Linked DNA regions of Homo sapiens: region 1 is linked to region 2. Evidence: fine-mapped expression QTL. A gene starts in region 2. The other region holds a variant in brackets. All regions are shown on one strand. Distances are between the middles of the regions. Region 1 overlaps UTS2B (urotensin 2B). Region 2 holds the start of CCDC50 (coiled-coil domain containing 50).

Region 1 (5,491 bases), 27 kb before region 2:
CAAGGCATTACAGAGACCTTTAGGGGCAGTCCCTCCCATCATATGCCCAGAGGTCTAGGACGGAAGGATGGTTTTGTGGGCCAGGGCAAGGGCCCCAATACCCTTTGCAGCCTCTGGACACTGCTCTTCACAGCTCAGTTGCTTCAGCTCCAGCCACGTCTAAAAGGACCCCAGATACAGCTCAGGCTGCTGCTTCAGGGAGTGCAAGCCATGAGCCTTGGCAGCTTCCATGTGGTGTTAAACCTGTGGGTGCACAGAGTGCAAGAGTTGGGGCTTGAGAGCCTCCACCTAGATTTTAGAGATGTACGGCAAAGCCTGGATGTCCAGGCAAAAGCCTGCTGCAGTAGCTGAGCCCTCATGGAGAACCTCTACTAAAGCAGTGCAGAGGGGAAGTGTGGGGGTGGAACCCCCACACAGAGTCCCCACTGGGGCATTGCCTAATGGAGCTGGGAGAAGAAGGCCACCATCCTCCAAACACCAGAATTGTAGATACACCAACAACTTGTGCCCTGCACCTGGAAGAGCCACAAGAAATCAACACCAGCCCTTGAGAGCAGCCACGGGGGCTGAACCCTGCAAAGTCACAGGGGTGGAGCTGCCCAAGACCTTGGGAACCCACTCCTTGCATCAATGTGCCCTGGATAGGAGACATGGAGTCAAAGGAGATTATTTTGGAGCTCTAAGATTTAATGACTGCCCCATTGGCTTTCAGACTTGCATGGTGCCTGTAGCCCCTTTCTTTTCTTTTTTTAACATTTTTTTTTATATATACACATATATACATTTTTTCTTTGACACGGAGTTTTCGCTCTTTCACCCAGGCTGGAGTGCGGTGGTGCAATCTCGGCACGCTGCAACCACTGCCTCCTGGTTCAAGCGATTCTCCCAGCTCAGCCTCCCGAGTGGCTGGGATTACAGGCGCCCACCACCATGCCTGGCTAATTTTTGTATTTTTAGTAGACATGGGGTTTCACCATGTTGGCCAGGCTGGTCTCAAACTGCTGACCTCATGATCCGCCCACCTCAGCCTCCCAAAGTGCTGGGATTACAGGTGTGAGCCACCGTGCCTGGCCTGTAGCCCCTTTCTTTTGGCCAATTTATCCCTTTTGGAATGGGAGTATTTACCCAATGCCAGTAAATCCATTGTATCTTGGAAATAACTAACTTGTTTTTAGTTTTACAGGCTCATAGGCAGAAGGCACTAGCTTTGTCTCAGATGAGACTTTGGACTAACTTTTGAGTGAATCCTGGAATGAGTTAAGACTTGGGGGACTGCTGAGAAGGGATGGCTGTATTGCAATGTGAGAAGGATGTGAAACGTGGGAGGAGCCAGAGGCAGAATGACATGGTTTGGTTCTGTGCCCTCACCCAAATGTCACATCAAATTGTCATCTCCAGTGTTGAAGGTGGGGCCTGGTGGGAGGTGATTGGATCATGGAGGTAGAATTCCCCCTTTGGGGCTGTTCTCATGACATCTGGTTGTTTAAAAGTGTGTGGCAACTGCCCCCTCTCTCTCTTGCTCTTGCTCTGGCCATGTAAGATGTGCCTGCTTTATGTTTGCCTTCAGGTATAATTGTAAGATTTCTGAGGCCTCCCCAGAAGCTCTATGTTTTCTTTACAATCTGCAAAACCATACAATAAGTAAACCTCTTTTTAAAACAAATTACTCATTCTCAGGTATTTATTTATAGCAGTTTGAGAAAAAACTAATATTCTTGGTATGGTTACTCTTTTTCCTCCATAAATCTATTTTTGTGTGCATTCCATTTTATCACTTTTTCTTCTTTATTTATGAAAGTGACTTACTGCCCTAACCAAAATATGTCACCTTCTTTCCTTGACTAACCCAGCCTGTTCCTCTTTAGGTGGATTTTAGCTGTCTTTCCGGGTGGTGAAACAGATTCAAGAATTTGCATAAGCTTTAGTGAAACTAGAAAAGAAAATTTGTCTCATTCTAGCTGGTGCCCTAAAGATTTGAATGGAAAAAAATACAGTAGTTCAGACATCCCTGGCTTTGCAAAATGCCATTTTGCTCAGTCTTCATTGAGTCACAGTGCCACTACCTTGTCTTCCACAAGTTTCACTGAGTTTCTCACCACAAGAGTGTTGAGAACTGTGAAGATTCTTCAATGTTATCAAAACATTGAGTTATAGATGAAGTTAGATACTGAACAATTGGTATTTGTTTTATTAACTAAATTTTTGGTA[AT/A]TTTTTTTTTTTTTTTTTTTTGAGATGGAGTCTCGCTCTGTCGCCCAGGCTGGAGTGCAGTGGTGTGATCTCGGCTTGCTGCAAGCTCCGCCGCCTGGGTTCACACCATTCTCCTGCCTCAACCTCCCGAGTAGCTGGGACCACAGGCGCCCGCCACCATGCCCGGCTAATTTTTTTTTGTATTTTTAGTAGAGACGGGGTTTCACCGAGTTAGCCAGGATGGTCTCGATCTCCTGACCTTGTGATCCGCCCGCCTCGGCCTCCCAAAGTGCTGGGATTACAGGCGTGAGCCACCACGCCCGGCCAATTTTTGGTAATATTAATACATCTATGGAAACCCTATTCAAAGAGCAGTGCTCTAGAAAGATGTCATTATCAAAATGAGATTTCTTCCTCTGACAGAATCTGTTAGATGGAGTCAATATTTATGGAGTTTTTATCCTGCTTGTGTCAGAGGCATTTGAAACAGAGTGACATCATCTTGAATAGGGGCTGGGTAAAATTAGGTTGAGGTCTGCTGGGCTGCAATCCCAGGGGGTTAGGCATTCTTAGTCACAGGATGAGATAGAAGGTCAGCACAAGATGCAGGTCATGCAGACACTGACCTGATAAAATAGGATGCAATCGAAAAGCAGGCCAAAACCCACCAAATTCAAGATTGCGCTGAAAGTCACCTCCGGCCATCCTCACTGCCCATTGTAAGCTAATTGTAATGTATTAGCACACTAAAAGACACTCCCGCCAGCATCATGACAGTTTACAAATGCCATGGCAACCTCTGAAAGTTACCCTGTGTAGTCTTAAAGGAGGAGAAACCCTCAGTTCCTCTAATTTCCCACCCCTTTCCAAGGAAACTCATGAAAAATCCACCCCTTGTTTAGCATATGATTAAGAAATAACCATAAACACAGCCAACCAGCAGCCCTCAGGGCTGCTCAGCCTATGGAGTAGCCATACTTGTATTCCTTTATTTTCTTAACAAATTTGCTTTCACTTAATTCTGTTGGCTCACTCTTGAATTCCTTCCTGGGCAAAGCCATGGACCCATGTGGCCTCCCAGGCTGAAACTCAATTCTAGGTTTCAACCTGTGACACCTGTATAATTTATACCTCCTGCCTGTATATGATTGTTTAGCTGAGCTGTTCGTTAAGTCCATTAACTACTATAACAACATAAACTCAGATTTATTGGCACTACTGTTTGCTTTGCTAAGACATGGAGATTGAGAAGAAAGGATTCTCTGGAAGGCAAAGGTTGTAGAAACTGTTGGGACTCAGAAAAATTATGCCCCAGAATATGGCACTTTTGTTACGCTGAGTGCTTTGAACTAAAGGAGAAACAAGGCCTCTCTGACCTTCTCTGTTCCCCTAGTCTCTTGCTCCTCTTTCCCTCCCAAAGCAGGCATGAAGAGGCTCTCTCTAAAGTTCCCTTAACTCACTAAAGAAAGTTCCTGTGAAAGGAATGCAATTGTCATGAGGCCCCTCCTTACAATAATATCATCAAATAGCGAAGATTAACTAACAGGAAAGGAGAAAAAAGATTGACACTACCTATTCTTCTGTGGACTGCTACCTGAGAAACTTCATCTGCACAAAAACAGCATTTGTTCCTCATGTGTTTCTTCCCTTCAGCACCCCATAACCTGTGGCCGCCTGACTCTAGATGTCCCAGTCCCCTATATCTTTTTGTAGCTGAGGATACTGTATAAACTTCAACCACCCAACTCTTCTGGGAGTCTCATACTTTGTAGGACCCACGTGCATATCCACATAATAAACTTGTGGTATCTTTTCTCTTGTTAATATATCTGCTGTCAATTTATTCCAGAGACTCAAATTGTCAAACTTTCAGAGGGTGGAAGGAAAATTCCCCTCACCCCTATAAAACTATCAATTTTATTGTCTTCTGAGGTTCAGCTCCAATCATAGCTTTAGCATGAGATATCTCTAACAGACATCCCACATGTCCTTTGAACACACATTTGCTCTGAAAAGGAAGAATTCAAGATAAAAATTTGGGCAGTAGTGTCTGGAAACACATTTCCTTAAAAAAAAAAAAAAAACTCACTGTTAATTCACAAATGCCTATTTATCTCTAACCATGTGACTATCATGTTACGAGGTTTAAAATCATTCAAGAAGTTGTGTTCCTTATTGAAAAGAGCCTATCACTAGGACTCAGAATGCCTAGATCTAATCTATGATGCACTACTCACAAATATTATGACATTGGATGAGTTCTGATGTTTTTATCTTGTTTCTCTCCCAATGTTTTTCCTTGTATTTCAGATTGACAGTACAATGAACAGTTGTCTGCGGAGTATCACATGTGGTTTTGACCAATGCTCATGCCATTTAAGATTAGAATCTGGCCACGCAGATGTGGTCAGAGAACAGGATGAGGCACACACTTAGTTAGGTCCAGCTTGGTCCCAGACTCTTCAATGGGGAAGGATATATTGCAGAAGAAAGAATTGCCTGGTGGCTTTTTTTTTTTCTTTTCTGAGATGGAGTCTTGCTCTGTTGTGCCAGCTGGAGTGCAGTGGCGCAATCTCGGCTCACTGCAACCTCCGCCTCCTGGGCTCAAGAGATTCTCCTACCATAGCTGGGATTACAGGCATGCGCCACCATACCCGGCTCATTTTTGTACTTTTAGTAGAGACGGGGTTTCACCATGTTGCCCAGGCTGGTCAAGAACTCCTGACCTCAAGTGATCCACCTGCCTCGGCCTCCCAAAGTGTTGGGATTACAGGCGTGAGGCACTGCGCCCTGCCTGGCTGGTGGCTTTTAAAGGAAACCTGAAGCAAACTTCATCTAGTGAAAGATGGGAATTTGAGAAATAAATATGCTGGTTTCCTTGATCTTCACTGGGGCAACTCTGAAATATGTTGCTCACCATCATCCCAGTTCGCTAGAGAGGTTATGTTCCAGTTGCCCACGTTGGTAACTAGCTAGTTAACATATTCTATTGGCATTTTTCCTTTCCCAGGTACATTTCTCCTACTCACCATTCTCTCGTGCTATTTCCTCCCAAATAAACTCCTTTGACTTGGATCCTTCTGCTTCTGCAGAAAGCAAATTTATACAATGTGAATATAATGCTCTCGTATCCTCTTTAACCTCAAATTCTATTGTACAGAAACTCACCAAACACTAGCTATTTTTATATTGATTGTCATTTTTTCTTTTTAAACTTTTAAGTTCAGTGGTACATGTGCAGGATGTGCAGGTTTGTTACATAGGTAAAAGTGTGTCATGGGGTTTGTTATACACATTATTTCA
Region 2 (5,214 bases):
TACTTTTAATTTGTGATTCTTACTGATAATAAAATTGGATAACTATATTTATTTATTTATGCAACAAATATTTATTGAGTGCCTATTATGTGCCAAGCACTTTTCTAGATACGCGGATATTAGGGAATCAAACAGATAAACCCCTGCCCTCACAGAGCTTACCTTCTAGTAAGGTAAGCTCTAACTGGGGGATGCTTTTGTGGAATTTGGTAGTTTTCAAACTGGAGTTTTCATTTCTTATGACCAAAGTCTCCCTACTCCAATCCAAGCATTTTATTGTTACCAAATTCACTTTATAAAAGTAGAAAATGTATCATGTAATATCCACCTAGAAAAAAAAATCAATTGATGCCTCCATATTGCCTTATAAATAAAATCCTTATTTCTCTCTATGGCATTCAAGTTGTGATTTGATGCTGAATTACTTGTTTGGCATCTGCCCCAAATTAGGGATCTGTATCCATCCTGAGAAGCCTTATGCTTTCTCTTTTATTGCAAAATGGACATTTCAGGACACCAAAAGATGTAAACTTGTTACAGAAATTCACCATATGTTCATTCCCTATAAATACTCAAAAGATACTAGCTCTTCCCCGTGTTACTGTCAGTCCTTTGCTAGAAGTTGCCTACTCTGTAATGCTGAGCTCTAATTGTTTGCTCAGCTTGGGGACCTATACAGAACAGGTGTGGAGTAGGAGAAGGAAAGCCCAACTATGGGGTGGATTTCCAGGTCATCTGCTCTAGTACCTGAAAAGGGCTCCTGGTTTTCATTACTTTTTCTGCTGAAAGCAGCCGATTCTCTAAACAATAGTTGTGGCTATTATATATGTTTCCATTTCTTCTCTAGGCCAGAAATGTGGATATTTTTATGCATATCTTACTGTAAGCACATCATATTTTAAGCATATCTTACTTTTGGCATATCTTACTGTAACAGTCACAGTCTAGGTAGGAAACAGGAGGTGCACTGTAAGTGATTTTACTGAAAAGAATGTAATGAAGAGACAATTTCAGAGGTATTAACTGGGTTAAGAGAACTAGGGGAGGCCGGGCGTGGTGGCTCGTGCCTGTAATCCCAGCACTTTGGGAGGCCGAGGTGGGCGGATCACTTGAGGCCAGGAGTTCCAGACCAGCCTGGCCAACATGCCAAAACCCTGCCTCTACTAAAAATACAAAAGATTAGCCAGGCGTTGTGGTGCACACCTGTAATCCCAGCTACTCGGGAGGCTGAGGCACGAGAATCACTGGAACCTGGGAGGCAGAAGTTGCAGTGAGCCAAAAGGAACTAGGGGAAGCCATCACACTCTAGGCCTGAAGGGACACTGGAAACAAATTGTTTTATTAGAGACCCATGAGAGCTGAGGCCATGGAAAAGAGGCCTCTACACAGGCCCTGTAGTCATAGAGGGACAGGACTGTGGCCAAAATTTTGGGTTAAAGGAAAGAAGAATACTCTGATATTTCTCTCCTCCCTTCTTTTGATTTTCTGCCAGTGCTTCCCATTGGTCAATCACAACAGGAAGCCACAGGTCAAAGGGGCCTAGTGATTTATCTGTAGGCATCCAAAGGCACGGCTTGGTAGAGAAGTAGAAACGATAGATTTGGGGAGGGAAACAGAAAATACTGCTGTTATAAATATTCTCTAGACCACAGGAAGTTAAAAAAAATTACTAGATTACAGGACAATTAAAAAATTCCCATAAATCTACCTTTCTAATACCACTTCCTTCTTATTCCCACATTTAACCTGCTGAGTGTTATCTCTGCCTAGCACTGGGGTGGGTAAACTTTTCCTGTAAAGCATATTTTAGACTTTGAGGCTTAAGAGGCAAGGTCGAAAATATTATGTCCTATTTATGTAGTGATTTGAAATGTAATTATTTGAACATATAAAAAACAGTCATTCAAATTCAGTGGCGTAGATTTGGCCTGTGGGCTATACTTTGCTACCCTCTGGCCTTGAAAGTCTTCTAAATTTTTGCTAGCCTAAAATCCACCTACTTTTCAATGTCAAGTTCAAATAAAACCTCCCCTACGTGGCCTCTCATACTGGGACTCTGAGCTGTGAGTGACAGAAAATCAACTATTACTAGCTTAAGCAAAACTGAGGATAAGTTGAGAGTTTGCGGGTTGTAGATCCCAGAATCCAGGAGTTGCTGAAATGCCAGCTGCTCTGGGGATATCCTGCTTTGCTACTGTGGTAACATCAGAACATGCCCTCTTCATCTCCCTTTCTCTTCTCTTTGCTTCTGTCTTCAGTTTGGCCTCATCATCTCCTAGAGGCAGATCTTTTCCACAAGAAACAGAATATGTAACTCTTTATGTACCCAGGAAAGTATTCTGTTTGACCTGTCTTGGTCACCCAGCCACCCTTCGATGAACCCATGTCGGTGGAGGAAGGGGGAAGAGTGATGGGGTAGTCTCGAGGTTCAGACATGGCACACGTTTGGGAGAGAAGCTCACCTCTGAGGAGTGGGGAAAGAGGCAGTTTCCCAAAAGGAGGATGCATTCTGTTGCCAGGAGATGAAACAGGAGAGGTTGTCTATTTTAGAGAGATAGAAATGTCACAATTACAATCCAATGTGTGCAGCGCTATAACAGAGATAAGTCTGACGCCTCGTTATCACCCACAGTACCTAACATCACACTTGGTAGACACATTCATGCGATTTTGATGAATGAATGACTCAGTTCTCCCAGCTGATTGTGTACACACTCTACTCCAAACTGGCCCAGAATTTTATCAGCTGCTCTTCATTCTGTACGTTGTATTTGGGGTTTTTATGGCCATCTACCATCTCTCCTCTAATTCCGGGTGCAAAAAGAGTGTATGAGAGAGAGGCAAGCATGCAGTAAACATCCTGTGTTAATCTCAATCCCAGAACCAGACCACAGAATGCTGACTACACCGCTCACGGGAAAGACTATGTTTTAGGTGACCCGTGTGGCCTTTTTGTTGAGGCCTTTAGGATACAAGGCCCCCACCTAAAGACGCGACCCTCCCGTAGGAGGGGGGCAGGGCCCGGGGGCGGGAGCACAGCGGGGCCCCAGCCTCAGGCGGCGCGTCACTGAGCACAAAGGAGACAACAGCGAGGCGGCAGCGGGCGCTGATCTTCGCTCGCCAGCCACTCGCAATTGCGGTTACAGACCTGCAGCTCCCCCTCCCCCAGCCGGCCCGCCCGCCTTTCTGTCTCCTCTCTCCCTCCGTACTGGACGGCCCCGGTCCATTTCCGGGCTCCGGATATTTGGTATCGATTGGGGCCGGGGACGCGGAGCAGGTGGCCGCGGCGGGGCAGCTGGGCCGCCAGCTTGGTGCCTCGGGGACCGTCTCCCGCTGCTTTGGTCACCAGCCCCTGCCCGCCCGACCCGCTCCGTTCTCCGGCCTGCGAGCCCTGCCGGCCGGACTTTGCGCCGCGTCCGGCGCTGCTGCTGCGCTCGGGGCCCCGCTCGGCGCCGGCGGTGACCGGGAAGCCCGCGTTAAAGGGGCAACCGGGACCCTGGCCCGGTATGGCTGAAGTCAGCATCGACCAGTCCAAGCTGCCTGGAGTCAAGGAAGGTAAGGGCCCCGGAGGGAGAGCGCGCGGGACCCTCCCCTCTCCCAGCCCGAGGTTCTCTCAGGTCAGGGGCGTTGCCATTTCGGCTCCCGCGGCCCTCGCCCGGTGCCCGCCCTGCGTTGGCCTTGCCCGGACGTGAAAGGAATTGAATTCAGGTTCTAGTGTGGGACGTTGGGCAAGTCTCCGACGTTCCAAGCCCGTTTTTTCTCAAGGGGGTGGTTGGGGGGGGGGGGGGCTAGCAGCAGCCCCAGCAAGTAGGTGGCTGTGCCCGTGTTCTCGTGCATCGCAAAGCCTCAGTGGACGCTGAGAGCCGGGTGAATCTGACTTACTCCGCTTCTAAAAAATCGAGGCCCAGCCTGGCTGGCTTGAAGGCTGGGAAGTGGAGAGGGGTTGACATTCAGTTCCGTGTGGAGCCTTTGTTTTGAAACATGACTCTTTCCCTCCTTCTCTCCCTACTTTTCCTAGGCCGGCGTCTGGCTGGCTGACTTTCCCACCTTCCTCAAGGTTTAAAAGTTTAGTCTTGGCTGTGTTCTGCGCGGGCGGGAAGCCACTATAAGCATTTTCTTACAAACAAAACACACACACACACACACACACACACACACACAATAGTGAGCGAGGGGAACAGGGGACTGATGGCCTTGTCATTGCTTTTTGTACCAATGTCCAGGAAAGTAGAGATTAGTACTGACCTGGCTTTAGCTGACAGCAAGTAGCCTTTTGACTTCCCTTCTCTTGTTTTTCCACTAGCTGCCTCAGGACCTAGCTTTTTTTTGCTGAGATCTTAGGTGCTGGATCGCCTTATGCCTTGAGTTATCTTTGTTTATTCTTTGGTCCTAGGAAGCATAGACGTTCCAGAGTGCTGACGCAGACCCCTAAGTTCCAAGGGCTTTGCAAAATCGGCTTCTGTTGTGAATGTCATTTGTATCGATTGAATACTGTAGCCTGAGGCGTCTTGGAGATGTGGAATTGAAAATAGTTTTTGCTTTCTTGGAACCGCTTGTTTTATTGCCAACTTAATTTGACTCCGTTGGTCTTGTGTGTGCTCAGGCCAGCCCAAAAATCTCAGGAAAATGAGGGACTGCTTGATTGCTTTCTCAGAGTTTCAAGCACTAGGAGACTAGTGACTAGTGGTCACTGATTTTATGTAGAATTTCTGATGGGCCTAGTTCTGTCTTACTGTTCCGGAAGGGTGTTAAAGCTTAGGCGTGAGATTTTAGCGTTAATACTTTTCTACCTTTCCGTCCCTGGTATGGCTTTGATGAAGACTTAGGGCTTTCACCTGTAGAAAACAGTTTTCACTCTGCTGTCAAGACTAAGGAGGCTGAGCGATAGGAAAGGCGGATCCATACTTTTGAGAGTTCTTATCTTAGAGATTGTCTGGTTATCCTTTACTTTTGGATATGAGGGTTTTTTGTGTGGGTATGTGTTGGGTTTGTCTCTAGAGAAAGAGTGATCCTTGTGCAGTGTGTAGTGCATGGTGAGTAGAATGAGAATTGGAGTTCAAACAAAACCTGGTATGTATAGTATTAATCATATGGTGCTATGATTTTATCCAATCCCCTATTCATGTGAGTGAAAAAACATAAAACTCTTCATATACATTTATATTACCCTTAGGTCTTCTGATTTCGTACCAAGACATGAATGATGTATTCTAA

What was found. PIP is the estimated chance that this variant, and not a neighbour inherited with it, causes the effect.
Region 1: its variant is the best candidate, but not a certain one, in a credible set for the expression of CCDC50 in monocytes after Pam3CSK4 (Quach 2016, PIP 0.83).

What each region holds. Positions count from the first base shown.
Region 1 is chr3:191,299,275-191,304,765 of GRCh38, forward strand. It overlaps UTS2B (urotensin 2B), which reads right to left. Exons shown (of 9, transcript NM_198152.5): 4 at 5,218-5,274. Among named protein-coding and RNA genes, the nearest start is that of CCDC50, 27 kb to the right of the region's middle. RefSeq lists enhancers at 135-314, 325-384, 2,661-3,186. The variant AT/A (reference allele first, on the strand shown) is at 2,209.
Region 2 is chr3:191,326,169-191,331,382 of GRCh38, forward strand. It overlaps CCDC50 (coiled-coil domain containing 50), which reads left to right and starts at 3,226. Exons shown (of 12, transcript NM_178335.3): 1 at 3,226-3,555. The coding sequence starts at 3,507. It overlaps UTS2B (urotensin 2B), which reads right to left and starts at 4,358. Exons shown (of 9, transcript NM_198152.5): 1 at 4,246-4,358; 2 at 2,463-2,541. RefSeq lists enhancers at 2,793-3,394, 3,395-3,995 and silencers at 2,922-3,001, 3,102-3,381.